Regions from separate parts of the Homo sapiens genome. Here regions 1, 2, 3, 4, 6 and 7 are each linked to region 5. The links come from fine-mapping of genetic effects on gene expression. A gene starts in region 5. Each other region holds a variant in brackets. All regions are shown on one strand. Distances are between the middles of the regions. Region 1 overlaps VSTM1 (V-set and transmembrane domain containing 1). Region 2 overlaps TARM1 (T cell-interacting, activating receptor on myeloid cells 1). Region 3 overlaps VSTM1 (V-set and transmembrane domain containing 1). Region 4 overlaps PRPF31 (pre-mRNA processing factor 31). Region 5 holds the start of OSCAR (osteoclast associated Ig-like receptor). Region 6 overlaps TMC4 (transmembrane channel like 4). Region 7 overlaps VSTM1 (V-set and transmembrane domain containing 1).

The links. PIP is the estimated chance that this variant, and not a neighbour inherited with it, causes the effect.
Region 1: its variant is fine-mapped to the expression of OSCAR in whole blood (TOPMed, PIP above 0.99).
Region 2: its variant is fine-mapped to the expression of OSCAR in whole blood (TOPMed, PIP above 0.99).
Region 3: its variant is fine-mapped to the expression of OSCAR in whole blood (TOPMed, PIP above 0.99).
Region 4: its variant is fine-mapped to the expression of OSCAR in whole blood (INTERVAL, PIP above 0.99).
Region 6: its variant is fine-mapped to the expression of OSCAR in spleen (GTEx, PIP 0.97).
Region 7: its variant is fine-mapped to the expression of OSCAR in testis (GTEx, PIP 0.98).

The regions. Positions count from the first base shown.
Region 1 is chr19:54,055,618-54,059,682 of GRCh38, forward strand. VSTM1 (V-set and transmembrane domain containing 1) reads right to left here. Exons shown (of 9, transcript NM_198481.4): 2 at 3,080-3,115; 3 at 2,689-2,973. Among named protein-coding and RNA genes, the nearest start is that of VSTM1, 6.2 kb to the right of the region's middle. The variant G/A (reference allele first, on the strand shown) is at 1,813.
Region 2 is chr19:54,069,558-54,073,622 of GRCh38, forward strand. TARM1 (T cell-interacting, activating receptor on myeloid cells 1) reads right to left here. Exons shown (of 5, transcript NM_001135686.3): 5 at 338-603. The coding sequence ends at 446. Among named protein-coding and RNA genes, the nearest start is that of VSTM1, 7.7 kb to the left of the region's middle. The variant G/A (reference allele first, on the strand shown) is at 1,999.
Region 3 is chr19:54,044,993-54,049,057 of GRCh38, forward strand. The region is part of intron 4 of VSTM1 (V-set and transmembrane domain containing 1); the gene reads right to left. Among named protein-coding and RNA genes, the nearest start is that of VSTM1, 17 kb to the right of the region's middle. The variant T/C (reference allele first, on the strand shown) is at 2,241.
Region 4 is chr19:54,125,458-54,129,519 of GRCh38, forward strand. It overlaps PRPF31 (pre-mRNA processing factor 31), which reads left to right. Exons shown (of 14, transcript NM_015629.4): 9 at 1,071-1,160; 10 at 2,616-2,743; 11 at 2,848-2,920; 12 at 3,600-3,728; 13 at 3,815-3,913. Among named protein-coding and RNA genes, the nearest start is that of PRPF31-AS1, 4.8 kb to the left of the region's middle. The variant G/A (reference allele first, on the strand shown) is at 2,549.
Region 5 is chr19:54,098,873-54,102,937 of GRCh38, forward strand. It overlaps OSCAR (osteoclast associated Ig-like receptor), which reads right to left and starts at 1,931. Exons shown (of 5, transcript NM_133169.6): 1 at 1,884-1,931; 2 at 876-908. The coding sequence starts at 1,920. It overlaps NDUFA3 (NADH:ubiquinone oxidoreductase subunit A3), which reads left to right and starts at 3,983. Exons shown (of 4, transcript NM_004542.4): 1 at 3,983-4,016. The coding sequence starts at 4,007. RefSeq lists an enhancer at 3,772-4,065.
Region 6 is chr19:54,164,834-54,168,898 of GRCh38, forward strand. TMC4 (transmembrane channel like 4) reads right to left here. Exons shown (of 15, transcript NM_144686.4): 4 at 3,615-3,847; 5 at 3,338-3,459; 6 at 586-733. Among named protein-coding and RNA genes, the nearest start is that of TMC4, 6.3 kb to the right of the region's middle. The variant A/G (reference allele first, on the strand shown) is at 2,433.
Region 7 is chr19:54,050,544-54,054,608 of GRCh38, forward strand. It overlaps VSTM1 (V-set and transmembrane domain containing 1), which reads right to left. Exons shown (of 9, transcript NM_198481.4): 4 at 867-905. Among named protein-coding and RNA genes, the nearest start is that of VSTM1, 11 kb to the right of the region's middle. The variant T/C (reference allele first, on the strand shown) is at 1,671.

The DNA of each region.
Region 1 (4,065 bases), 43 kb before region 5:
CATGAAATCAGTCTGGTTTTTTCTTACTTGCCTGACTTGTAATGGTTCTGGGATCCCCATTTTCAACAGAGCAATTACAATACATTCGGTTCCATTGTATGGAGTGAGACATCGAAGTGTCCTGAGACCTGGAGTCATCCCAGGGTCTACATTGACTGAGAGCAAAGGTTCTGGGAGTGATCCTGAAGAGGACAAGGCAATGGAGGTAAAGAGAAGGGCCAGGGCTTTTCCATTTTCTACTGCACTTGGGGACTATCTCATCCATCTCTCCGTATTAACCATGTCTTTCATCTTCTGCATTTGATGCTTTAACATCTTGGGGCCTTGCTGCCCTTGGTGGGACCTCCCCTCGCAGGGTTAGTTAATTTCTAGAGCCAGTAAACAACTTGTCCTCAAGGATGTCCCTCAAATGCAAGCCAATAGATCCAGAGCCCATACTCTCAACCACCTTAATTATGGGGCTCTCACACTCAAGGTCAATGTTGTCCTCTCCTAATCACCCCAGGTCCAAGAACTAGACAACCAGGGACAGCCTCTACACCCCAAAGCCAATTCTTTTTTTGTTTTTCTTTTCTTTCTTTCTTTTCTTTTCTTTTCTTTTTTTTTTTTTTTTTTTTTTTTTGAGACAGGTTCTCATTCTATCACCCAGGCTTGAGTGCAGTGGCACGATCTTGGCTCACCGCAGCCTCTGCCTCTGGGGTTCAAGCAATTCTCGTGCCTCAGCCTCCCGAGTAGCTGAAAGCACAGGTGCACACCACCACACCCAGGTAATTATTGTATTTTTGTAGAGATGGAGTTTCGCCATGTTACCCAGGCTGATGTCAAACTCCTGACCTCAGGTGATCCACCCTCCTAGGCCTCCCAAAGTGCTAGGATTACAGGCATGAACCACCACACCTGGCCAACTCTAATCTTGTTCTCCCCACAAAATACAATCAAAGCTCTGGTCCACAGTTCTTCCTCCTCCCTCTGCCCCTCATTGACCCTGGTGCTTCCCCACATACTCCCCCCAGTATAGCCTTCCTCCTCCTCTTGGGAACTGTAACAGACCATCTTTTCCATGGCAATCATCACTTGGTCTGTCAGTCTTACCATACCCCAATTTTCTATTAACTGACCATATTCTACACCACCCTCCCACATCCACATCATTGGGACCCTCTCAGAATCTCTGATGAGAATCTTGCTCCACATTCGGTTCCCATTTCCACATTGAAGGTGTTGCATCTATCCTTCTTCTTCTTTTTTTTTTTTAGACGGAGTCTTGCTCTTTCATCCAGGCTGCAGTGCAGTGGCACAATCTCAGCTCATTACAACCTCTGCCTTCTGGGCTCAAGAGATTCTCTTCCTGCCTCAGCCTCCCTAGTAGCTGGGATTACAGGCGCCTGCCACCACGCCCAGCTAATTTTTGTATTTTAAGTAGAGGTGAGGTTTCACCATGTTGGCCAGGCTGGTCTCGAACTCCCGACCTCAAGTGATCTGCCCACCTCTGCCTCCCAAAGTGCTGGGATTACAGGCATGAGCCACCGCGCCGTGCCTGGCCTGCATCTATCTTTTTGTCTCCTAGATTCCTTCTTCCCCAGCCATGTCCCACGACAGGAAAAGAAATACGTGCATCAGGCAGGCTTTGGTGACTCACGCCTGTAATCCCAGCACTTTGGGAGGCCAAGGCAGGAGGATCACCTGAGCTCAGGAGTTCAAGACCAGCCTGGGCAACATAGATCCTGTCTCAACAAGTAATTTAAAAATTAGCCAGGCATGGTGGTGCTTGCCTGTACTCCCAGCTACTTGGGAGGCTGATGTGGGAAAATC[G/A]CTTGAGCCTGGGAGGTCGAGGCTGCAGTGAATTGTGTTCATGCCACTGCACTCCTGCCTGGGTGACAGAGCGAGATTCTGTCAAAAAAAAAAAAAGCAGCCGAGCGCAGTGGCTCACTCCTGTAATCTCAGCACTTTGGGAGGCTGAGGTGGGCAGATCACTTGAGGTCAGCAGTTCGAGATCAGCCTGGCCAACATGGTAAAACCCTGTCTCTACTAAAATACAAAAATTAGCCAGGTGTGGTGGCGCACCCCTGTAGTTCCAGCTACTCGGGAGGCTGAGGCAGGTGAATTGCATGAACCCAGGAGGCGGGGGTTGCAGTGAGCTGAGATCATGCCACTGTACTCCAGCCTGGGCAACAGAGCAAGACTCCCTCTCAAAAAAAAAAAAAAGGCTGGGTGTGGAGGTTCACGTTTATAATCCCAGCCCTTTGGGAGGCCGAGGCAGATGGATCACTTGAGGTCAGGAGTTTGAGATCAACCTCACCAATATGGTACAACCTCATCTTTATTAAAAATACAAAAATTAGGCCGGGCGCGGTGGCTCATGCCTGTAATCCCAGCACTTTGGGAGGCGGAGGCAGGTGGATCACAAGGTCAGGAGATGGAGACCATCCTGGCTAACATGGCGAAACCCCATCTCTACTAAAAACACAAACAATTAGCTGGGCGTGGTGGCGGGCGCCTGTAGTCCCAGCTACTCGGGAGGCTGAGGAGGGAGAATTGCTTGAACCCAGGAGGCAGAAGTTGCAGTGAGCCGAGATCGTGCCACTGCACTCCAGCCTGGGAGACACAGCAAGACTCTGTCTTAAAAAAAAAAAAGCAAAGCCAAACCAAAGAAATGTGTGCATCAAAGAGTACATCTGCCCTTCTCACCTGTGACCACCAGCTGCAAGTGTTCACTGCTTTCTGACCACTCATGGGAGGCTGTTGTCTTGTAGGCACAAAAGTACCTCCCAGCATCCTTAGGCTTCAGGTCCGTGAAGGGGAATTCAGCTTCGTTTTCTGCCGAGCTCTGTTCCTGCTTGTACCCAGAGTCGTTCACCTTGCGCAGCACAAATGTCACATTCTGGGAATGAGCCTGACACTTCAGGGTCACATTGCTCTCGGCTTCAACCACCGAGCTGGGCCAGGCGTGGAGGGAGGGCTTGGGCGGTTTCTCTGGAAACAATTCAGAGTTAATTTGAGTCTAGAATTCAGACGATTAAAGGAAAAGGTCATGAAGCGTGGGATGCAGGAATAAAAGTTTAAGTAGGAGAAAACTCACCATTCTTTTTCTCATCTTCGTAGCCCAGACACAGCCCTGGAAGAGAAATCTCAATGAGAGAAAAATTATGTGCTTGTCCTTGAGTACAAATCCAGCAGAGAACGTATGACTAGCTCTTTATAGGTCTGAGATATATATATATATATAATGTATATATGTATTATATATAATAAATGTATTAAGTATATGTACACATATTACATATAATACATATATAAATATAATATATATATTAAATATATGTATTACATATATGTATATATTTTTGGCAGATATCTCCCCAGACTTACCTCTTACTTTTGTTCCATTGTTTGTCATTCAGAAGCTACGTGTATGGAGAAAATTCCAGCAACTTCTTCTTTCTTTTTTTTTTTTTTTTTTTGAAATGTAGTCTTGCTCTGTTGCACAGGCTGGAGTGCAATGACATGATCTCAGTTCACTGCAACCTCCGCCTCCCAGGTTCAAGCAATTTTCCTGCCTCAGCCTCCCGAGTAGCTGGGACTACAGGCACCCGCCACCACACCTGGCTAATTTTTGCATTTTTAGTAGAGACAGGGTCTCACCATGTTGGCCAGGCTGGTCTTGAACTCCTGACCTCAGGTGATCCACACGCCTCGGCCTCCCAAAGTGCTGGGATTACAGGCGTGAGCCACTGCCCCCGGCCCAGCAACCTTTTCTGATGTATTGAATTGCTTTCATGAGTAATCCTTTCACCATCTAGAAATTGTTCAACATTCACCTATGCTTTTTTCTGGTATTTTCTGTGATTGCAGTGTTTTGTTTTGTTTTGAGACAGAGTCTCGCTGTGTCACCCAGGCTGGAGTGCAGTGGTGCAGTCTCAGCTCACTGCAACCTCCTCCACCCCCTGGGTTCAAGTGATACTCGTACCTCAGGCTCCAGAGTAGCTGGGACTACAGGTGTGTGCCATCGTGCCCAGCTAATTTTTGTTGTTGTTGTTGTAGAGATGGGGTTTCACCATGTTGCCC
Region 2 (4,065 bases), 29 kb before region 5:
AGGCAGAGCAGTCCAGAGGGCTGTCAGTCGGCTATTTTTGTGGTTATTTCTTGATCGTATGCTAAACAAGGGGTGGACTGTTCATGAGTTTTCCAGGAAAGGGGAGGGGATTTCCCTGGAACTGAGAGTCCCTCCCTCGTTTAGCTTCTGGAAGTTGCCATGGCATCTGTAAGCTGTCTTGGTGGCGGTGGGAGTGTCTTTTAGCATGCAAATGCATTATAATTAGCAAATAATGTGCAGTGAGGACGACCAGAAGTCACTTTTGTTGCCATCTTGGATTTGGCAGGTTTTGGCTGGCTTCTTTGTTGCATCTTTGTGTCTTTGGGTCTTTGTGACCTGTATGTTGTGACCTGTCTCATCCTGTGACTTAGAAAGCCTCAACCCCCTGGGAATGCAGTCCAGCAGGTTGCAGCCTCAGTTTACCCAGCCCCGGTTCAAGATGGAGTCACTCTGGTTTGAAGGCCTCTGATTCACCTGGAGACACATTCCGGCTGTACCAGGCCTCCACCAGGAAAGCTCCCATGATAACCACAATTACGGCAGCCAGACCCAGTCGTACGAAGTTACCCAGGGAGTAGTTGCTCGATGTGGTACCTGGGGGAACTGAAAGAGAGAAGGGGCTCAGCACTGACCCTCAGAGGGTATCCCTCCTTCTCAAATGGCCCCACCAAATCTGACTATCATCACCCACTTAATGTTTTCGGTTTTTTGGTTTTTTTTTTTGAGACGGAGTTTTACTCTTGTTGACCAGGCTGGAGTGCAGTGGTGTAATCTCAGCTCACCACAACCTCTGCCTCCCAGGTTCAAGCCTCCCTGCCTCAGCCTCCCAAGTAGCTGGGATTACAGGCATGTGCCACCATGCCCGGCTAATTTTATATTTTTAGTAGAGACGGGGTTTCGCCATGTTGGCCAGGCTGGTCTTGAACTCCCGACCTCAGGTGACCCGCCCACCTCAGCCTCCCAAAGTGCTGGGATTACAGGTGTGAGCCACCGCGCCCGGCCACCCACTTAATGTTTTCTAGCCAGTAGTCCACTGTACTTTAAAGTTTTAATTGAACTTTTTTTTTTTCTTGAGATCAAGTTTTGCTCTTGTTGCCCAGACTGGAGTGTAATGGCACAATCTCAGCTCACTACAACCTCTGCCTCCCGGGTTCAAGTGATTCTCCTGTCTCAGCCTCCCAAGCAGCTGAGATTATGAGCATGTGCCACCACACCCGGCTAATTTTGTATTTTTAGTAGAGACGGGGTTTCTCCATGTTGGTCAGGCTGGTCTCGAACTCCTGACCTCAGGTGATCCACCCGCCTTGGCCTCCCAAAGTGTTGGGATTATAGGCATAAACCACCATGCCTGGCCATAATTGAGCTCTTTAAAGTTTTAATCCCTGAAAACAAAAGATGGAATCTTTGTTGTTGTTTTTGAGACGACGTCTCACTCTGTTGCTCAGGCTGGAGTGCAGCGACGCAGTCTCGGTTCACTGCAACCTCCACCTCCTGGGTTCAAGCGATTCTCCTGCCTCAGCCTCCCGAATAGCTAGGATTACAGGCACCTACCACCACACCCGGCTAATTTTTGTATTTTTAATAGAGATGGGTTTTCGCCATGTTGGCCAAACTGGTTTCGAACTCCTGGCCTCAAGTGATTCGCCTGCCTCGGCCTCCCAAGGTGCTGGGATTACAGGCCTGAGCCACCGCGCCCGGCCAAGATATGCAATCCTAATGAGTTGTAATGGGAGTTCCTTTATCTTCCTTCCTTGATATTCACTCCACCTTAGCTCTCTTCCTTCGTTTATTTGCTCTTTATCCCATTTCCACCTTCCCACATTGCCTTTTCTCCTCCCGCATCCTTATGTTAAGGAATAGTCTTGGGGCAGCACATGAGACGGAAGGAGCTCTACAGAGCCCCGAATTCCGTGGCTGGATCAGCATCCTCGCAGCACACACTGCTGTGCAGCAGTGCACCTGAGAAAGTTTGAGTTGAGGCCGGGCACAGTAGCTCAC[G/A]CCTGTAATCCCAGCACTGTGGGAGGCTAAAGTGGGAGGATTGCTTGAGGCCAGGAGTTCGAGAGCAGCCTGGGCAACATGGCGAAACCCCATGTCTACTAAAAATACAAAAAAATTAGCCGGGTGTGGTGGCGGGTGCCTGTAATCCCAGCTACTCAGGAGGCTGAGGCAGGAGAATTACTTGACCTGGGCCTGGGGTTGGGGGGTGGAGGCTGCAGTGAGCTCAGATTGTGCCACTACACTCCAGCTTGGGCGACAGAGTGAGACTCCATCTCAAAGAAAACAAACAAACAAACAAAACCCTAGCCTCCAGATTTTCAGGGAGGCTGATTTGAGTAATAATAAAACTCTGATTGGCCAGGTGCAGTGGCTCATGCCTGTAATCCCAGCACTTTGGGAGGCCCAAGCGGGCAGATCACGAGGTCAGGAGTTCGAGACCAGCCTGGCCAATATGGTAAAACCCCATCTCTACTAAAAATACAAAAATTAGCCAGGCAGGGTGGCACACATATAGTCCCAGCTACTCGGGAGGCTGAGGCAGAAGAATCGTTTGAACCTGGGAGGCAGAGGTTTCATTGAGCCGAGATCGCGCCACTGCACTCCAGCCTGGGCAACAGAGCAAGACTCCGTCTCAAACAAACAAACAAACAAAAAAACTCTGGTCTCCCACTTACCTGGCTCAATGTGTATTAAACTCTTTTTTGCAATTCCTCTGTCTTGATGAATGGGCTTCATCCAGGCACCCGGCAAGAGCTGTAATGTAACTCATTACAGCAGTTACAACAGATGAAAAATAATTTACAGAGCTGAGGAAGCAGAGTGCTAGCACCCAGTAAGGCAGGAAACAAGATACTTTCAGAAGAATTCTAGCAGTCAATAAAAGACATGGGTAGACTTCGCATCCACGGCATAGAAGCAGGAGGCTGTGCAAACACCATGTTCTGAGGATGAGATAATTTTTTTTTTAAATTTGAAACTGGGTCTCACTATGTTGCCCAGGCTGGTCTCAAACTCCTGGGCTCAAGCAATTCTCCAGCCTCAGCCTCCCAAAGTGCTGGGATTACAGGCCTGAGCCACCACACATGACTGAGAAAGAATTATTGAGAGTGAAATCACTAACACCAAGAAAAAACAAAACACGCCATGCACAGTGGTTCACACCTGCAATCCCAGCCCTTTGGGAGGCCGAGGTGAGCGGATCACCTGAGGCCAGGGGTTCAAGACCAGCCTGGTCAACATGGTCAGAACCCCATCTCTACTAAAAATACAAAAATTAGCCAGGCGTGGTGGCGGGCACATGTAATCCCAGCTACTCAAGTGGCTGAGGCAGGAGAATTGCTTAAACTCGGGAGGCAGAGGTTGCAGTGAGCTGAGATCGCACCACTGCACTCCACCCTGGGCAACAGAGCGAGACTCTGTCTCAAAAACAAAATGAAACAAAACAAAACAAAAAACCAAAACGCTAAGAGATGCAAAGACTGGTAGAAGGAATCTGGTGCTGGTAGATTCATAATTTTCAAAAACAGCCTAGAAATTTTCCAAGGATGTAGTATAACAAAAAGGCAAAGGAGGGCCGGGCACGGTGGCTCACACCTGTAATCCCAGCACTTTGGGAGGCCGAGGCAGGCAGATCACCTGAGGTCAGGAGTTCAAGACCAGCCTGGTCAACACGGTGAAACCTTCATCGCTACTAAAAATAGAAAAATTAGCCGGATGGGTGGTGCAGGCCTGTAATCCTAGCTACCTGGGAGGCTGAGGCAGGAGAATCACTTGAACCTGGAAGGTGGAGGTTGCAGTGAGCGAAGATCGCGCCATTGCACTCCATCCTGGCAACAGAGTGAGACTCCATTTCAAAAAAAAAAAAAAAAAAAAAAAAGGCAAAGGAGTGGAAATTGTGAAAGGGAGGTTTTTTTGTTGTTTTGTTGTTTTTGTTTTTGTTTTTTGTTTTTTGTTTTTGAGACAGAGTCTCACTCTATTGCCCAGGCTGGAGTGCAGTGGCAAGATCTTGGCTCACTGCAACCTCCGCCTCCCATGTTCAAGCAATTCTCCTGCCTCAGCCTCCCAAGT
Region 3 (4,065 bases), 54 kb before region 5:
CCCCGCTATCTTTGTTAGTGTGCTTTGAGTCTGAGAATTTTTCCTAGGTGTGCAATGATCTGTGGTCACATTACAGAGCCAAGTCTGAGATGCTTCACACGCCTGGTCCTCTGCACCAACAGAGGGTCTCCCATCCAGACGCTTCCCCTACTTGGTTCGCTATGTTTGCATTGGCATTTCTACATATCTATATATAGAGAATTACCTATCTAATTTATCTATCTCGCTAATCTATCTACCATCTGTCTAGGTATCTATTATCTATCTACCTATCTATCTTTATCTGTCTCTGTACCTACTTACCTATCATCTATCCAATCTATCCGTCCTATCTAATTATGATTTATCTATCTACCTACTTGCCTATCACCTATCCAATCTATCTATCCTATCATATGTAATTAACTATCTGTCTGTCTAATTTTTCTATCTTGTTAATCTATCACTTATCTAGGCATCTATGTATCTATCTTTATCTGTCTATCCACCTGCTTACCTGCTGTCTGTCTAATCTATCCATCCTATCATATCTAATTATCACTTATCTATCTACCGACTTACCTATCATCTAGTTACCAAATCTATCATCTATCTAATGTATCTATCAATCATAACCAGTTATCTATCATCTATCATCTATCATCTGTATGTATCTGTCTATTCACCTACTATTATCTATTTAATCTATTCTATCTAGTTATCTATCTATCTATCCACCTACTTATCTAATTTTTCTATCTTGCAACTCTATCACCTATCTAGGTATCTATGTATCTATCTGTGTATCTGTATATCTATCTATCTATCTAGCTAGCTTTATCTAGCTACCTAGTTACCTATCATCTATCTATCTAATCTATCATCTATCTAATGTATCTATCAATCATATCTAATTATCTGTCTATCTAATCATCTATCTTATCTATTATATCTAGTTATCTATCATCTAGCTAGCTAGCTAATCTATCTGTATCTATCTACCTACTTACCTATCGTCTATTTATCTATCTAATCTATCATATCTAGTTATCTATCTACTTACTTATCTAACCTGTTGTATCTAGTTATCTATCTACCTACTTACCTATCATCTGTCTATCTATCTAATCTGTCCATCGTATCTAGCTACTTATCTACCTATCATCTATGTATCTATCTAATCTATCATATCTAGTTATCTATTTATCTGCCTACTTGCCTATTATCTATCACATCTAATTATCTATCTATCCCCCTCCCTGAAATAAGGTTCTTTCTGAGCTGATCATCAGGGAGCAGCAAAAGGAGTGGGGAGTTTGAAACAAGACATATTTGAGTTCTAGTACTGGGTCTCCTACCTCCTGACTTTGTAAATGTTCCCTTCCCTTTCTGGAATACGTTATTTTTTGGTTAAATATAAGGAGGGGGCAGAGAGCTAATAATATCTAACTTGAAGAGTTAGGTAATGATGAAAAATCCTGGCTTTAAAGCGCTCAGTCTAGAAACTGACTCATTGTGTCGGATAATGGGATTGTAGGTATAATGATGATTTTTTTTCACCCAATATTCCACCTACACCCATCTCTCTCTGTAATAGATTCTGTCAATGTTCCTCAACCCATGTTCCCCAGATCCCTTTCCCATTTTTATGCATTCTAGATCGTGGCTTCTTTCCCTTTCCAAAGTGAACATTTGTATCTCTTCTTTGGGGGACTGCCTGGGAGAACTCCAAATGCCTTGGAATTTACATGCCCGGGACAAACTGCCACTGACGGCTGTGGGGACCCCAGCTCCCTAGCCTCTGGTCTTCGACCTTCTCTGTCTCCACTGCTTTCTGCAGGATGGAGCCAAAGATACCATCTGAGGGACACAGATATCCCACACTTGTTTAATCTATTTTCCTCCCAGCCCTTCTTCCCCACTCCCTAAAATGTAATTTTCAAGCCAGGCGTGGTGGCTCACACCTGTAATCCCAGCACTTTGGGAGGTCGAGGCAGGCAGAGCACCTGAGGTCAGGAGTTCGAGACCAGCCTGACCAACATGGAGAAACCCCGTCTCTACTAAAAATAGAATATTAGCTGGGTGTGGTGGTGCATGCCTGTAATCCCAGCTATTTGGGAGGCTGAGGCAGGAGAATCTCTTGAACCTGGTAGGCGGAGGTTGCAGTGAGCCAAGATCACGCCATTGCACTCCAGCCTGGGCAACAAGAGCGAAACTCTGTCTCAAAACTAAATAAATAATAAATAAAATAAAACGTCACT[T/C]TCACACTAATGCTGTCTAAGAGCCTGCTTCTGGTGGAGCTGAATCAGAGAACCCCTCAAAAGCAACAATTTTTTTTTTTTTGAGACAGTCTCACTCTGTCTCCCAGGCTGGAGTGCAGTGGTACAATCTCGGCTTTGGAACCTCCCCCTCTGGGGTTCAAGCAATTCTCCTGCCTCAGCCTCCCAAGGAGCTGGGATTACAAGCACCCGCCACCTCACCCCGCTAATTTTTTATATTTCTAGTAGAGATGAGGTTTCACCATGTTGGTTAGGCTGGTCTCAAACTCCAGAGCTCAAGTGTTCTGCCCACTTTGGCCTCCCAAAGTGCTGGGATTACATAAGCCACCATGCCTGGCCATAAGCAACAATTCTATCAGTGCATCTCCAAGGACTTATGAAAACAGGGCAGGAACAGCTGCTCCTGGACTCTCAGTTTCCCCAGATGGAAGCAGAGAAACAGCAGCCTTGCCTTGTCCTTTCTGTTCTCCCCTTTTCCAGCCTACGGTATCTTTCACACAGCAATTCACTAGAAATGAGAAGTACATTATTGCAAAATTCTCATCTTCATATGACCCCATAATCAGCTGAACTGGGTTCACCCTGAGATGTCCACAGATCCTGGCCAAATGTTGCATCAGTATTTGCAAATTGCCAGAATAAATCATAACTTGCTACGCTACTAAAGTCAGCGTGAGCAACAAGATACAGCCTGACACGGGGCATAAATGGAGGCACAGGCACCAGAAAGAAAGTCAAGTCTTGTGTGATAAAATTCATCTTCATTCTCTACATTGCGATTGAACATAGAGTCGTTTTCTAGTGTGTTTTAGGCATATAAATACAGGCTGGGGACATCATACCTGTGCTTACAGATATTTTACTTTTATTTTATTTATTTACTGAAACAGGGTCTCGCTCTGTCACCCAGGCTGGAGTGCTGTGGCGCAATCACAGTTCACTGAAGCCTCAACCTCCTGGGCGCAAACGATCTTTCTGCCTGAGCCTCCCAAGTAGCTGGGACTACAGGTGCACACCACCACGCCTGGCTAATTTTTGTATTTTTTGTAGAGATGGGATCTTACCAAGTTGTCCAGGCTGGTCTTGAACCCCTGGGCTCAAGTGATCCTCCTGCCTCATCTTCCCAAAGTCCTGGTATTACAGACGTGAGCCACTGCGCCCGGCAAAGATATTTTATTCTGTTTAGAATTGTGATGATACAAATTTGAACTCAAAAAGTACATTTTAAGAAATTATATAATACCCACTGGGATGGCTATAATTTAAAAAAAGAAAAGTAAGTGTTGACAAGGATGTGGAGATATTGGAACCCACATATATTACTGGAAGGAATATAACATGATACAGCCACAATGGAAAATGATTTGGCAGTTCCTCAAAAAGTTGAACATAATAGTCACCATATGTCCTAGCAAATCCACTTCTAGGTACATACTCAAGATAATTTACAGCGCGGAGACAAACAGATACTCCTACCACAGTGTTCCAGCACCATTACTCGCTTTAGCCAAGAGGTGCAGACAACACAAATGTCCATCAAAAGAAGAACGGGGCCAGGCACAGTAGCTCAAGTCTGTAATCCCAGCACTTTGGGAAGCTGAGGCGTGTGGATCACCTGAGGTCAGGAGTTCGAGACCAGCCTAGCCAACATGGTGAAACCCCCTCTCTACTAAAAATACACAAATTAGCTAGGCATGGTGACGGGCGCCTGTAGGTCCAGCTACTCAGGAGGTTAAGGCAAAAGAATCACTTAAACCTGGGAGGCGGAGGTTGCAGTGAGCTGAGATTGTGCCACTGCACTCCAGCC
Region 4 (4,062 bases), 27 kb after region 5:
TGCCCTCCAGCCTGGGTGACAGAGTGAGACTCTGTCTCAAAAAAAAAAAAAAACAAGCAAGACAGGTTCTGGGACAGACAGGCCTGGGTCCAGACCCTGCTCTGTCCAACTGTGGCGAGTTACCTCAGGCTCACGGCCCTGTGCCCTGCCTGGCCTCCCCCAGGGATGGGGAGAACAATAGCACTGATGGCCAAGGCTGGGCAGGCACTTCCTGGCCCCACCCCCCAGCCCTGTGTGGGGTTTTTTTTGTGGTCTTTTCTGCGACCCTTTAGGTCAGGCACTGCTACTGGAACACACCCAGGGAGGCTGGCAGGTCACCCCATCCTGGGAGGAGAGAGAGTGGGCGATAGAACCCAGGACGGGTGGGCCTGGGGCTCGGGGCTCCAGCTGCCTCACTGCACCCCTGCCATCGCCACCGCCTCACAGCCCTGGGCATATGGGTTAAACCTGCCCCAGGGAGCCTGATGTCTTGTCACCCAGGCCTCTGCCTCTTCATTTGGCCATCTCACATCGGTCCAGGCACAGGCCGTAGACACCACAGGCCTGTAAGGGAGGCCAGGGCTGGCCATCGCTTCACTGTGGCTGACAGCTGGGCTCTGTTTGCAGTTTGGATTGGAACCCTGGCTCCATCACCTGCTGGCTGTCTCCCTGGCCACATGACTTGAAGCCTTGGTTTCCACATCTGAAAAGGGGGTGCAATGATCACACCAGCCCGATATTTGAATATTTGATGAGATGATCCGAGGGGCGTGCTTAGCATGGGGCTGGCATCCAGGCCGAGTGCACTCCCCCCGGCGTCTCCACAGTCACCACCGTCCTCGTTGTCAGCGTGCCTTACTGTCATCCTTACCTGATGGCCACTTATCAGCTGGGACATGGCTCTGTGCCCTGCCCTCATCCCCTCTTCCTGTGAAGTAGGAGCTGAGAGCACACACCTCTAGAGCCCAAGGGTGGAAAGCCCCCTTCCAGGACCCCAGGTAGAGCCAGAGGAGGAGCGCGCGCGGTTGCTTTGCTGTTACCTCTGTCTGTCTGTCTCACACAGATTCCACCCCCGTTTTCCGTTGCTCCAGGATCTGCGGCGGAAAGCGGCCCGGCTGGTGGCCGCCAAGTGCACACTGGCAGCCCGTGTGGACAGTTTCCACGAGAGCACAGAAGGGAAGGTGAGGAGGGAAAGGTGAGGGGCGGCCGGGCGTCTTTTCCTCTGGGCCTGGGGTGTCTCTGCAGGGAGACCCTCAGCAGGGAGCCCACCCCAGCGAGCACTGTCCTACCAAGGCGGAGGCAGTGCTTCTGCCCACCCTCCCTGGGGTCAGGCACCCCCTTCCCCAGTGGGGTTTCCTAGGTCTGCTGTTGGAAGGTAGCATGAACCTACTGGCTTAAAACAGTGCAGGTGTGGCCGGGTGCAGTAGCTCACGCCTGTAATCCCAGCACTTTGGGAGGCCAGGGTGGGCGGGTCACAAGGTCAGGAGTTTGAGACCAGCCTGGCCAACATGGTGAAACCCCATCTCTACCAAAATTAGCCGGGTGTGGTGGCACGCACCTGTAATCCCAGTTACTCAGGAGGCTGAGGCAGGAGAATTGCTTGAACCTGGGAGACGGAGGTTGCAGTGAACTGAGATTGCATCATTGCACTCCAGCTTGGGTGACATAGCGAGACTCCATCTAAAAACAAAAACAAAAAACAGTACAGGTTTATTATCTGTGGTCCTGTAGGTCAGAAGTCCAAAATGAGTTTCACTGGGCTGAAGTCAGGGTGTCATCCTGGAGCGTTCCTTCTGGGGGATTCAAGGGATAATCCATTCCCTGGTCTTTTCCAGCTTCTAGGGGTCACTGGCACCCCTTAGCTCGTGGCCCTCCCTCTGTCTGCGGAGCCAGCCACATAGCACCCTCAGACCTCTCTCTGACTCTGCTTCTGTCTTCATATCTCCGCCTCTGTTTTTGTTCCCCTCTTCTATTTTAAGGGCCCCTGTGGCTATACTGAGCCTACTCAGATGGTCCAGGATAGTCTTCCCAGCTCACAATCCTTAAAATCCTTCTTAACCTCTTCACGTCCCTTTTGCCCTGTGATTCTGGGAATTAGAACATGGGCCTCTTTGGGCATGTGTGTGTTGGTGGGGGCGTAATTTGCCTTCCACACCAGGATCTGTCCCCGCTGCAACAGGGGATGTTATTCAAGTAATTATTCAGTTACCTTCTGTCTTCCTTGGTAGATGTACTCGGGAGAGGAGACGTTTTCTGTCTTGTGAACTGTCGTTTGCCAAGCACCCGGCCTGGCACAGCGTTCAGGTGTTCCGTGTCCCCTTCTCCTTTCCCTCTCCCCATCTCACCCCTGGTCTGGGTGTGGGGGTGCAGCTGTGAGTAGCACAGACAGGACCCCTGCCCCGTGGCGTGGACATTCTTGTTGGGGCCGGGTCAAAGAGACAGTCAACAGGTGAACTCTGTCCTGCGTCTAGCGGTGCTAAGTCAACACCAAGAAGAAAAAGAAAGGGGGTGGCGGTGAGGCAGCATTAGGTGCTGATTTAACTAAGGCACGTGGATACTCGGGGGGCCC[G/A]CTCAGAGGAGGCCTGGGTGGGCAGCCCACGCGAGCAGCTGCAGGACCTCCCCCTCGCCCTCCCCAGGTGGGCTACGAACTGAAGGATGAGATCGAGCGCAAATTCGACAAGTGGCAGGAGCCGCCGCCTGTGAAGCAGGTGAAGCCGCTGCCTGCGCCCCTGGATGGACAGCGGAAGAAGCGAGGCGGCCGCAGGTGAGGGGCCCTGGGGGTCCGGTAGGCATGGGGGTCATGGAGGGGAGAAGCCGGCGTCCTCCTCCCAGCCGACTCCCTGGCGCCGCCCACCCACCCGTCCCCAGGTACCGCAAGATGAAGGAGCGGCTGGGGCTGACGGAGATCCGGAAGCAGGCCAACCGTATGAGCTTCGGAGAGGTCAGACTCCCAGAGCGCCCTCCTCAACCCCACAGCCAGCCAGCCGCCACCGCCCTCTGCCTCCTGCCACCGCCCCTCCTCTCGTCCTGTGGCCCTGGCTCATGTCTAGGGCGCTGCCCCAGCCTCCCCCCCCCCGGCCTCTATTCTCGTTTCCATCCGTTCAGCCCCAAAGCGACCCTCGCGACCCTTGGAGCCTGTGTCTCCGCTGCTTAGAGCCCCCGCGGCTTCCCATCGCCCCGGGCTCCTTGGCCGGTTCCTCCCTGCCCAGAGGCTCCTTAGTGCCCTGCTGCACGGCCGCCCCGTCCCTGGGCCCCGCCAGTCTCCTCTGTTATCCCAGCGTCATCCCCTTGGTCCTGCAGGACCGAACTCAGAGGCCACCTCATCCTATTAAACCTGTTCTGGTTCCTGACATCCCCCGACCCACACGAGTAAGGAAGGAATGGCCTCCCAACTCTGAGCTCACAGAGCAGTGCTGGGACCGGGCCCCTCTCAGGCTCCCCAGCATCCCCCGCGTGTGTGGGCCCCCAGGCCTCAGCCGGGCCGAGTGGGTACCGGAGCAGGTGCCCGTGGGACCGGCCGGCTGGTGACCGCTGGGCTTCGGGCTGGTGGAGGGGGTGCCTCGGTGGCTGGAGGGCAGGGCCTGGTCGCTGAACTGCAGGGCGCCTCCTCTCCCCCCTAGATCGAGGAGGACGCCTACCAGGAGGACCTGGGATTCAGCCTGGGCCACCTGGGCAAGTCGGGCAGTGGGCGTGTGCGGCAGACACAGGTAAACGAGGCCACCAAGGCCAGGATCTCCAAGACGCTGCAGGTATGGGCCAGACCCAGGTGGGGCTGGGGACCGAGGGACACAAGGTGGGGGGAGCCCAGATCGCAGCCTCCCTGTCCTCCCCACAGCGGACCCTGCAGAAGCAGAGCGTCGTATATGGCGGGAAGTCCACCATCCGCGACCGCTCCTCGGGCACGGCCTCCAGCGTGGCCTTCACCCCACTCCAGGTACCTCCCCTGGGCCGGCTCTGTCCCCAGCCCTGAGACCTTGGCAAGGCCCCTTGCCCTCTGCCCCTGTGAAGAAGGCCAGGATGAGTCTCCTCATGGGGCTGTTGTGGAGGGTGTGGTGACGAGGTATGCAGAGGACGTAGACAGCT
Region 5 (4,065 bases):
CTACTCAGGAGGCTGAGGCAGGAGAATCCCTTGAACCCAGGAGGTGGTTGCAGTGAGCCGAGATTGCACCACTGCACTCCGGCCTGGGCGACAGAGAGAAACTGGTCTCAAAATAAATAAATAAATAAATAAAATAAATAGGTAGAGATAGCTATAGCGACACTGAAATATCTCCAAAAGAGTTTTTTTTGTTTGTTTGTTTGTTTTTGAAGTGGAGTCTTGCACTGTCACCCAGGCTGGAGTGCAGTGGCGCGATCTCAGCTTACTGCAACCTCTGCCTCCTGGGTTCAAGCGATTCTCTTGCCTCAGCCTCCTGAGTAGCTGGGATTACAGGTGCGTCCCACCACACCCGGCTAATTTTTTTTTTTTTTTTTTTTTTTTAGTAGAGACGGGGTTTCACCACATTAGCCAGGATGATCTCGATCTGACCTTGTGATCCGCCCGCCTCTGCCTCCCAAAGTGCTGGGATTACAGACGTTGGCCATTGCGCCCAGCCCAAGATCCTATTTCTTAAGCCCTGTACTGTGCCAGGCTCAGGGTTTTGCACATGTGATTTGATGAGATCTCACAGCGGCCCATTTTACAGAGAAGGAAATGGAGTCTTAGCAAGCTGTGACTTGTTCTAGGTCATATGGTCACATATAAATGAATACGATGGTGAAACTGAGGTCCTAGCTTAGGCCTCTGCCTCAGAAGTTCCTGGTCTTCAGTACTCACCTATAATGGCCACTAAGGGGAATGAGAAAAGAAGGAAGGAATGGAGGGAGGGAGGAAAATAAGGATATCTGGGATGGGATTGGGCACCAAAATAAAATCTGAGTAATTGGAAAAGGGGTGTCAGCAACAAAAGGAGAGTGGATGGGGTGGCTACTCACCAGACGGAGTGATGTCTGTGTGACACAGAGGCCCTGTAGGAGGTTGAGGGACTAGTTTCTTTTTCCTTTTTTTTTTTTTGTCTGAGGCAGAGTCTCACTCTGTCGCCCAGGCTGGAGTGTAGTGGTGTGATCTCAGCTCACTGCAACCTCTGCCTCCCAGGTTCAAGTGATTCTCCTGCCTCAGCCTCCGTAGTAGCTGGGACTACAAGTGCCCGCCACCACACCAGGCTAATCTTTGTATTTTTAGTAGAGAGGGGTTTCGCCATGTTGGTCAGGCTGGTCTTGAACTCCTGTCCTCAGGTGATCCACCCGCCTCGGCCTCCCAAAGTGCTGGGCCTCGGCTCCCACAGGCATGAGCCGCTGCGCCCAACAGCGAGTTCTTTTCAAAACCCTTTGTGGCCAGCCCCATCTCATTGGTAACCCAGGAATCTGAGTTCCCAGCTCCTATCTCCTCTGGGAAATGAGAATCTTATCCCTCCCTCCTCCTGTCTCAGTAGGCAGAAATTTGGACATCCATTGCCCACCTACCGAAGAAGTCTGAACGCAGACCCCTCTGGCCTGGGCAACCAAGAGTTCAGGCCCTTGAACTCCACCTTTCCAGGGAACAATGATCGTAGAGTTTCTCCTCTCACGAGTTCAGGAATCTGGGTCCCCATTTCCCTCTTCTCTCAGGAGCTAAGAGCCCTGTTCCCAGCCCCCTTTTCCCAGGGAATCAGGAGTCCTGGCTTCCATCCCCCTCCCATATAAGAATCTGGGAGTCCTCCCTGTCTCCTGACCTCTTCCTGCCTCAAGAACCAGAGATACCTGTCCCCACCTCCTTCCTCTTTCGGGAATCTGTGTTCTCTTGCTTTAGGACCCAGGGGTCTGGGCCCCAGCCCTGTTCTTTATTTGAACCTAGAATCCCAAACCTGCTGCCTGGTCCCCCTGCAGGGTGTCTGGGTCTCCATTGCCTCTCTCTCTGCCCCCAACCCCAGCCAGGAACCCAGGGAGAAGAAAGGGGTGACTCACAGAGGGTCAGCAGCTGGAGGATCAGCACCAGGGCCATGGTGGGCAGATACCCGCTAGAGCTGGAGCCAGGGCTTGGTCGCACCCTCTCCCCTCCCAGGAAATGAGGCAACATCAGAAAACCAGACCCAGATCCTCATTTACGGAAGAGAGTATCGAGGTGGGGGCCTGTGGGTGACTGTGTCATAGCCCTATGGCACTGTGGAAAAATTAGCAGGGGGTTCAGTCATAACCTGTGGTGTTCATTTATTTAACTCTAGAAACAAATACTAGTCAGGAGGTGGAGGCAGGAGGATCGCTTGAGCCCAAGAGTTCAAGAGCAGCCTGGGCAACAGAGCGAGACCCTGTCTAAAAAATAAATAAATAAATTGTGCCACTGCACTCCAGCCTGGGTGATAGAGTGAGACCATGTCTTTAAATATAGATAGACAGATAGAAAGATATCTGTCTGTTTTAAAAATAAGAACCTATTATGTGCCAGACTCTTGCTGTCATTGATTGACAGATAGATAAAAATTTGCACCTATTATGTGCCAGGCCCTTGCTGTGATTGAAAGATAGATAGATGGATGGATGGATAGATAGATAGATAGATAGATAGATAGATAGATAAAAATTAGCACCTGTTAAGTGCCAGGCCCTTGCTGTGATTGATTGATGGATAGATAAAAATTAACACCAATTATGTGCCAGGCCCTTGCTGTGATTAATTGATCGATTGATAGATTGGTTGACAGAGAAAAATTAGCACCTATTATGTGCCAGGCTCTTGGTGTGATACTGTGTTAGATAGATAGATAGATAAAAATTAGCCCCTCTAGGCCGGGCGCGGTTGTTCACGCCTGTAATCCCAGCACTTTGGGAGGCCAAGGCGGGTGGATCACCTGAGGTCGGGAAGTTCGAGACCAGCCTGACCAACATGGAGAAACCCCCGTCTCTCCTAAAAAAGAAAAATTAGCCGGCTGTGGAGGCGCGCGCCTGTAATCCCAGCTATTCAGGAGGCTGAGGCAGGAGAATCGCTTGAACTCGGGAGTCGGAGGTTGCTGTGAGCCGAGATCGCGCCATTGCACTCCAGCCTGGGCGACAGAGCTAGACTCAATCTCAGAAGAAAAAAAAAAAAATTAGAACCTATTACGTGCCAGACCCTCGCTGTGCCATGTTGGCAGGCACAGAGGGAACTCAGACTCCGTTACTGCTCTCAAGCAGCAGCTACCAGTCCGACTGAAAGACCAAGACCAGGTCAGTTTCTTTTTTTTTGAGACGGAGTCTCGCTCTGTCGCCCAGGCTGGAGTGCAGTGGTGTGATCTCGGCTCACTGCAAGCTCCGCCTCCCGGGTTCACGCCATTCTCCTGCCTTAGCCTCCCCAGTAGCTGGGACTACGGGCGCCCACCACCACGCCCGGCTAATTTGTGTTGTATTTTTAAGTAGAGACAGGGTTTCACCATGTTAGCCAGGATGGTCTAGATCTCCTGACCTCGTGATCCGCCCGCCTCGGCCTCCCAAAGTGCTGGGATTACAGGCGTGAGCCACCGCGCCTGGCCCAGACCAGGTCAGTTTCTTAAGTGATCTGAGCTATAATGGCGGTAACAGAGCACTGTGAGAGCCCGCAGAAAGCTCCTAACCCATCTGGGATGAGACCTAGCGCTTCCAGGACGAGCCGATGTTGAGCTGAGACCTCGAAGGACAGGTTAGTCATTCACCTTCTCCCGGGCTCAGTTTCTTCGTCTGTAAAATGGGCTTTCATACATAAACTATAAAATGGGGACTATTTTGTTCCGCCTTAGGTGGGTCGCAGCAGGAGGACTAGTCACTCCGGAGCGACTTCTAGGCTGAGACTAAGGAGATTCCACGCAGGTCCGCAAAGTCAGGCTTGCGCTTGCTCCTGACACCACTTCCTTTACCTCCACGGCTCCATCTTTGTTCTGCGCGAGTGCGCACGCGCAGGCTCCGAAAGCGGGCCGTCGCACAGAGGGACCACAACTCCCAGAGTGCTCCGCGTCCTTGCTTTCGCCTCTACTTGTGCTCCAGGGCGCACGCGCAGCCCTGGGAGCGGGTTCTCGCGCATAGGGACCACAACTCCCAGGGTGCTCCGCGTCCTCGCCGCTGTCGCCGCCGCGGAGACAAAGATGGCTGCGAGTAAGTGCAGGTGCCGGTGGCGCACGGGGCTCGGGTAGTTCTGGGAACC
Region 6 (4,065 bases), 66 kb after region 5:
TCAATCTCAGCACCCCAGGCCCCGCCCCTGAGGCTCCGCCCAGCATCCCAAGACCCGCCCCTGGTCAGCCCTGCCCATCAGAGGCTCCGCCCCCAGGTGGCCCTGCGCTTTATTCCTGGCCTGAAGTTCCAGTTCAGCTGTATCAAGACGCCCTGCTGGCCGCTCCCATCACTTAACTTTGAACCAAATTGCCTTAGGCCCCGCCCGCTTCTTGTGCTTACTTAAAAAAAAACAAACTTTTTTTTTTTTTTTTTGGTAGAGAGGGAGCCTCCCTATGTTGCCCAGGCTGGTCTCGAACTCCTAGACTGAAGCGATCCACCTGTCTCGGTCTCCCAAAGTGCTGGGGTTACAAGCATTAGCCACCGATCCCAGCCCTGGCGCATCCTTTTCCTACACGCTTGGAGCTCGGGCAGCCCTATCTCGGCCTCCTCTCAACCTTCTCATTCCCCAGGACCTGCCTTTCTTGGAGAAGGAGCTGCTTAGCATCTCTCCGGAGGCCCCATCACCGAGTTAGGCCCTGTGCGTTATCTCAGCCCGGTCCTGTCTGGTCCCTACCCAGTTGCAGACCCCGCTCCCTAATCGCACCTTTAATTCGTACAAGATGATGCGCTGGCGCAGCCGCACGTGGACGTCCCCGCAGAGACCGAAGTCCCAGGCCGAGAACACCCGGTGGCTGTAGCTGGTCAGAGCCTCGGACTCCGCCAGCAGTGTCTGCTTCAGCCCAGACACCGAGCTGAGAGGGGAGACCCGGGAGACGGGAAGTGAAAGGACAGCCAGGAACGGGGGTTATGGGGAGACCCCTCATATTGGGACAAATGGGGAAGATGAACCCTAAGGCCTTGGGTACTAGGCGAGTTCCCACCAGACCAGATGGGGAAAGAGTCAAAGAGGCGGAGACACAGTCATTGAAGGCAAAGTCCAAGGGAGATTCAGAGACAGTTCTGGGGTGCAGGCACCCCAAAGAGAGGCAGAAACCTAGGAGACAGGGACAGAGCCTCGGAGCGAAGGGGGCAGAAACCCAGAGTGAGAGAAACAGAGGCCCTGAGGAAGACAGAGATGTGGAGGAGGGACAGAGGCCCCAGAGGGAGATTCGGAGAAAGGGAGAAAAAGACAGTGAGAAAGGGGAAACTACATCTACAAAAGATGGGGGTCAAAGACCCATAAGAAGTACAGGCACACAGAGAAGGGAGCTGCGGCGGGAAGAGCCGAGAAGAAGACAGAGACCCAGAGAAGATGGCAGGTAAAGACTCAAGAGAGGGGGCAGGCCAGGCGCCATGGCTCACGCCTGTAATCCCAGCACTTTGGGAGGCCGAGGGGGGAGGATCACCTGAGGTCAGGAGTTTGAGACCAGCCTGGCCAATGTGGTGAAACCCCGTCTCTACTAAAAATACAAAAATTAGCCAGGCGTGGTGGTGCATGCCTGTAATCCCAACTACTTGGGAGGCTGAGGTGGGAGGATCACTTGAACCCAGGAGGTGGAGGTCGCCTCCAAAAAAAAAAAAAAAAAAAAAAAGACCCAGAGAAGACGGGCAGGTAAAGAGACTCAAGAGAGGGGGGCAAAGACCCAGGAAGGAGATAGAGAACCCCAGCAGGGGCAGAAACAGAACTGGACAAAGAGACCATGTGCACCTTCACTGCCCTGGCCCCGGCCCCCATCATCTCTCATGTGAACAACCACAGAGGGCCCTCACATGGTCTCCTTGCTTCCACTTGTGCCCGCATATAATCCATTCTCAGTTCTTGAGCCAGTGGGACCTTCTTTTGATGCAACTCAGACCGTATTCCCCTGTTTAAGACCTATTCCAGGGCTTTTCCCTTCTCTTAAAATCGAGGCTCTTTGCCGGGCGTGGTGGCTCACGCCTGTAATCCCAGCACTTTGGGAGACCGAGGCGGGTGCATCACCTGAGGTCAGGAGTTCGAGACCAGCCTGACAAACATGGTGAAACCCCATTTCTACTAAAAATACAAAATTAGCCGGGCATGGTGGCACATGCCTGTAATCCCAGCTACTTGGGAGGTTGAGGCAGGAAAATTGCTTGAACCCGGGCGGCGGAGGTTGCAGTGAGCTGAGATCGCACTACTGCACTCTAGCCTGGGTGACAGAGCGAGACTCCGTCTCAAAAAAAAAAAAAAGTTGACTTTTGGCCAGGCACATTGGCTCATGCCTGTAATTCCAGCACCTTGGGAGGCTGAGGTGAGCAGATCTCTTGAGCCTAGGAGTTTGAGCGCAGCCTGGGCAACATAGCAAGACCCTGTCTCTATAACATTAAAAAAAAATTTTTAGCAAGACATGGTGGTGCACCCCTGTGGTCCCAGCTGCTCCCGAGGCTGAGGTAGGCGGATCAGTTGAGTTCCGGAGGCCCAGGCTTCCGGTGAGCTATGATTGCACCACTGCACGCTAGCCGGGTGACAGAGTGAGACCCTGTCTCAAA[A/G]AACAAAACAGACTGGGTGCGGTGGCTCACACCTGTAATCCCAGCACTTTGGGAGGCCGAGGCAGGTGGATCACCTGAGATCAGGAGTTCGAGACCAGCCTGGCCAACATGGCGATACCCCGTCTCTACTAAAAATACAAAAAATTAGCTGGGCGTGGTGGCCGGAGCCTGTAAACCCAGCTACTTGGGAGGGTGAGGCAGTAGAATCGCTTGAACCCGGGAGGTGGAGGTTGCAGTGAGCCAAGATCGTGCCATTGCACTCCAGCCTGGGCGACAGAGTAAGACTCTGTCTCAAAAACAAACAAACAAAACAAATGAAAAACAAAAACAAATCCCAAAACCTTGATCTTTTTTTTTTTTTTAGATGGAGTTTCTCTCTGTCGCCCAGGCTGGAGTGCAGTGGCGCAAACTCGGCTCACTGCAAGCTCCACCTCCTGGGCCACCGCTCCTGGCCCAAAACCTTGATTTTAACTCACACAGAATAAAGGGTTACACAGCAAGACCGAGGATTCTGGGGCCGGGCGCGGTGGCTCACGCCTGTAATCCCAGCACTGTGGGAGGCCGAGGCGGGTGGATCACGAGGTCAGCAGTTCAAGACCAGCCTGACCAACATGGTGAAACCCCATCTCTACTAAAAATACAAAAAAGTTAGCTGGGCGTGGTGGCGGGCGCCTGTAATCCCAGCAACTTGGGAGGCTGAGGCAGGAGAATCGCTTGAAACCGGAAGGCGGAGGTTGCAGTGAGCCGAGATTGCGCCACTACACTCTAGCCTGGGCAATAAGAGCAAAACTCCGTCTCAAAAAAAAAAAGACTGAGGATTCTTGGGGAGGGGGTTTCTGCCACCACCACTTGCTTCCCCACCCCAACCCGTCCCGTCAGGGGTCAGGGGTGCAGGTGCCACTGACCGATGCAGGATGAGCAGGAGGCAGATGAGGCCAACGGCAAAGGCCCAGCACAGGTAGGTGACCGCCAGGCGTGGGCGGGGCGGGTAGAAGCCATAGAAGAGAGGGGACCATTCCAGGTAACCCTGTGGGGGGAAGGCGGCGCAGGGGCCACTGTGGGAGGAGGCGGGGCTCCTGGAGCTGCACAGTCAGGGTCTGGGGTCAGGGTTTGAGGTTCGTGTCATTGAAGGCACTGGGGTCACAGGTGGGCGGGGAATCCCCCAGGGACCCAGGCACCTACCTCACCCGAGAGCAAGTTGAAGAGCTGGGTGGCAAAGGTGACCAGGCCCTGGGAGTGGGGGTTATAGGAGCCGCAGGGCGAGGAGATGTCGGGGCCGGGAGGGCCTGGGGGAGCGCCTCCCAACCAGGTGGGCAGCAGCGTCATGCAGGCCATGAGCACAGAGGCCAGCACGTTAAGAAGGAGCAGGAAGCGCAGCAGGGAGAAGTAGGACTCCGTGCCGGCGCCAAACTGGCCTGCAGGGGGCAGCAGAGAGAGGCTCAGGTTCCTTCCCGGGAGCAGGACCAGCCCCTCCTACCCCTGGACTGGGGTCCAGCCGCGCCTTCCTTTCTTTCTTTCTTTTCTTTTCTTTCTTTTCTTTTCTTTTCTTTTCTTTTCTTTTCTTTTCTTTTCTTTTCTTTTCTTTTCTTTTCTTTTCTTTTCTTTTCTTTTCTTTTCTTTTCTTTCTTTCCTT
Region 7 (4,065 bases), 48 kb before region 5:
GTCATATGGCAAACAACGCACTCTGTGCTGTTTTACACACCAGCTTCTTCAGAACCCGGAAGCACTTTAGAGGTTATCTCCCCTCATCCTCCACCCCCCAAAACACAGCAGTTTCCCCAATAACATTGAGAAAATGGGCTTTAAAGTTCTTCTAGGCCGGGTGCGGTGGCTCATGCCTGTAATCCCAACACTTTGAGAGGCCGAGGCGGGGGAATTGCTTGAGGTCAGGAGTTTGATACCAGCCTGGCCAACATGGTGAAACCCCATCTCTACTAAAAACAAAAAACAAAAAACAAAACTGAGCTGGATATGGTGGTGGGTGCCTGTAATCCCAGCTATTCGGGAGGCCGAGGCAGGAGAATTGCTTGAACCCAGAACCCAGGAAGTGGAGGTTGCAGTGAGCTGAGATTGTGCCACTTCACGCCACCCTGGGGGACAGAACAAGACTCTTTCTCAAAAAAATAAATAGGCCGTGTGCGGTGGCTCACGCCTGTAATCCCAGCACTTTGGGAGGCTGAGGCGGGCAGATCACAAGGTCAGGAGTTCGAGACCAGCCTGGCCAACATGGTGAAACCCCGTCTCTACTAAAAATACAAAAATTAGCTGGGTGTGGTGGTGCGTGCCTGTAGTCCCAGCTATTCGGGAGGCTGAGGCAGGAAAATTGCTTGAATCCGGGAGGCGAAGGTTGCAGTGAGCTGAGATTGCGCCACTGTACTCCAGCCTTGGTGACAAAGCGAGACTCTATCTCAAAAAACAAACAAACAAACAAACAAACAAATAAATAAAGTTCTCCTTGTGCACTTTAAGCAAAGGTGATCATGAAGCAGATCTCATTGGGAAAAACATCTCCTTTCTAATTATCTTACCTGTTTTCATTGAGGGAGCTTCAAGTTCATCGTGTTTATCTAGAAAATAGGAGGGAAGAAAAGGAATTACACTAATCATACAGGAACCTTGGGGACAGGAGTCCTCACGTCCTACTTATAGACATCCTGTTCTTCTTTGGGAAGCAGAAAAGAGAATGGCTTCTCCATTCCCTAGATGCTCCCTGGGTCCTCAGAGCATGGACAGAGCCTCAGATTACTCTTCTTAATAGTCCTGGAGTTTGATAGTATTTTTAATAACAAAAATATTTATGAATGACCCTGCTAACGCCCCCTCCAGTTTGATTCCTTGCCAGTCTTCTCTATCTTGACAAAGAACACCATTCACCCAAATTCTTTCTTTCTTTTATTTTTTTTGAGTCTTGCACTGTTACCCAAGCTGGAGTGCAGTGGCATGATCTCAGCTCACTGCAACCTCCGCCTCCCGGGTTCAAGAGATTCTCCTGCCTCAGCCTTCCAAGTAGCTGGGACTACAGGCGCCCGCCACCACACCCTGCTAATTTTTGTATTTTTAGTAGAGACAGGGTTTCACCATGTTGGCCAGGCTGGTCTCAAACTCCTGGCCTCAAGTGATCAACCTGCCTTGGCCACTCAGAATACTGGGATTCCAGGCATGAGCCACTGCACCTGGCCTATATTTCTATCTCCACAGTGGCACCATTTAGTCTAAGTTAAAATATCACCTACTTGGCCGGGCGCAGTGGCTCACGCCTGTAATCCCAGCACTTTGGGAGGCCGAGGCGGGCAGATCACAAGGTCAGGAGATCGAGACCATCCTGGCTAACA[T/C]GGTGAAACCCCGTCTCTACTAAAAATACAAAAAGTTAGCCGAGCGTGGTGGCGGGCCCCTGTAGTCCCAGCTACTCGGGAGGCTGAGGCAGGAGAATGGCGTGAACCCGGGAGGCGGAGCTTGCAGTGAGCCGAGATCGCGCCACTGCACTCCAGCCTGAGGGACAGAGCCAGACTCCGTCTCAAAAAAAAAATAAAAATAAAAATAAAAATGAAATGAAATATCACCTACTCACCAGTCCCTGGCAACCACCAGTTGCTTCTGTGAGTTTGGCTTTTTTAGACTACACATATGAGTGAGATCCTGCAGAATTTGTCTTTCTGAGTCTGGCTTATTTTGTTTAGCATGATATATGCGGAGATGTTGATGAAAGGGTATAAGTTTCCAGTTCTAAGATGAAGAAGTTCAGGTGCTCAGCATGGTGGCAATGGATGTGCTAATTAATTTGACTGTGATAATCATTACACAATGTACAGGTGGATCAAATCATCAGATTGTATACCTTGAATATATACAATCTTCATTTGTCAATTTGATATTTTTAAATTTAAAAAGTCGTATTGCCTGAAACGCACCAACTCTTACTACATCTAGTCCCTTATTTTCCAAAAGCAGCCAGAGGCCGGGCATGATGGCCTGTGCCTGTAATCTCAGATGCTTGGGAGGCTGAGGTGGGAGGATTACCTGGGCCTGGGAGGTCAAGGCTGCAGTGAGCTGTGATTGCACCACTGCACTCCAGCCTGGGCAACCGAGTGGGACCCTGTCTCAAAAAAAAAAAAAAAAAAAAAAGCAGCCAGTGACCCTTCCAGCATATAAATAAAATCATGCCATCCTCCAGCTCAACTTCATCAGTGGGTTCCTGTTCTTTCAAAGCAGACTCTAGGACCAGTTCAAACACCCACAAGATCCTAGATGCTCTAGGCCCTGCCTTATGTCCTCCTTTCTGTGTCTCAATCATTCCAGGAACACTCACACTTCTGAGACTTTGCTTTTGCTGCTCTCTCTCCCTGGAGGGCTGTTCTCCAGATATCGGTGTGGTTGGGTCATTCTCATCCTTCATGCTTGTGGCAGATAGACCCTAAGGGGGCACTCAGGAGACTCAGGAGCCCTGCTTCCTGGTGTTCATGCCTTTGTCTAATCCCCTCACCTTGAGTGTGGAGATCTGTGACTTTCTTCTCACCAATAGCTATGGCAAAGGTGATGGGATGTTATGCTCTTGATTATGTTACATTACATAAAACTCTGTTTGCTAGGGCATTTGCTCTCTCTTTCTTCTCTCTCTCTCAATCTCTCTTCTTGCAAGTGCTGCAGAATCATTCTAGCATGAATCCTACAGCTATAAAGAACCAGATATTGCTATCAACCACAGGAGTGGAGAAATGGACCCTTCCCCAGTCAAGCCTCCAGATGAGCCAGATGAGAACACAGCCCTTGTTGACACCTTGATTGCATCCTTATGAGACCCAAAGCAGAGGACTCAGCTAAGCTGTGCCTGGACTCCTGACCCACATCAACTGTGAGATAATAAATAGGTGTTTCAGGCTGCTAAATTAGTGGTAATTTGTTATGCAGCTGTAGATCACTAATACAATGCCTCTCACAGTTATTCTCCATCTATAATGTGTTTTTTAATTACTCTGATAGCTTGCTCTTATTTCTTTCTTTCTTCCAAAGAAGAATGTGAGCTCCTGTTGGCCAGAGACCTGGTCTGTCTCAGTTCCTACAATATGCTCAGGATCTACCAAAGTATCTGAATTTGTAGGGTGAATGGGCAGCTATTTTTGTGCCAGGTATTTTGCATTAATTTTTTTTTGTAATGGAAGCATTTATATGCCCATTTTGTAATAAGTAAAAAGTAGTATAATAAAAAAGTAAAAAGTAGTATAATAAAGTGATTTGCAAAGCAGCAAACAGATTGTATATGGAAGGCTGACCTGGAAAATCAACCACTGGAAATTGATACTATAGCCTGTCTTGTGATGTAATGGTACAGCTGCGATAGAGGTGAAGAAATCAGGAAACAGTAGATGATATGCCAGAGAACATAATTGGGAAATGGCAAATAATCGCGAGGCTTTTAGGGCTAAAGTGTGGGTGCAGAAATTCTTAAGACTACAAGAACGAGTTATGGGGAATACAATTTGAAATCAATATCAAAGTGATGAGCACCTTGTTGGAGTATCATTGATCAAGAGCCTCAGAAAGAGGGTAAATCAGAGGTGAAACATTAAGTATTCAGTTACTCATCATGCCCCAAGCCCAGGCTAAGTCATTGGTGTGGACCCACGGCTACTTCTACACTACACTGATGACTGTAAAGTCTCTCCAGGGATTTCCCATGATATGGCAGGACTGACCTACTGGAAGCAACTGTGGTCAGTTGAGAGGTATTGT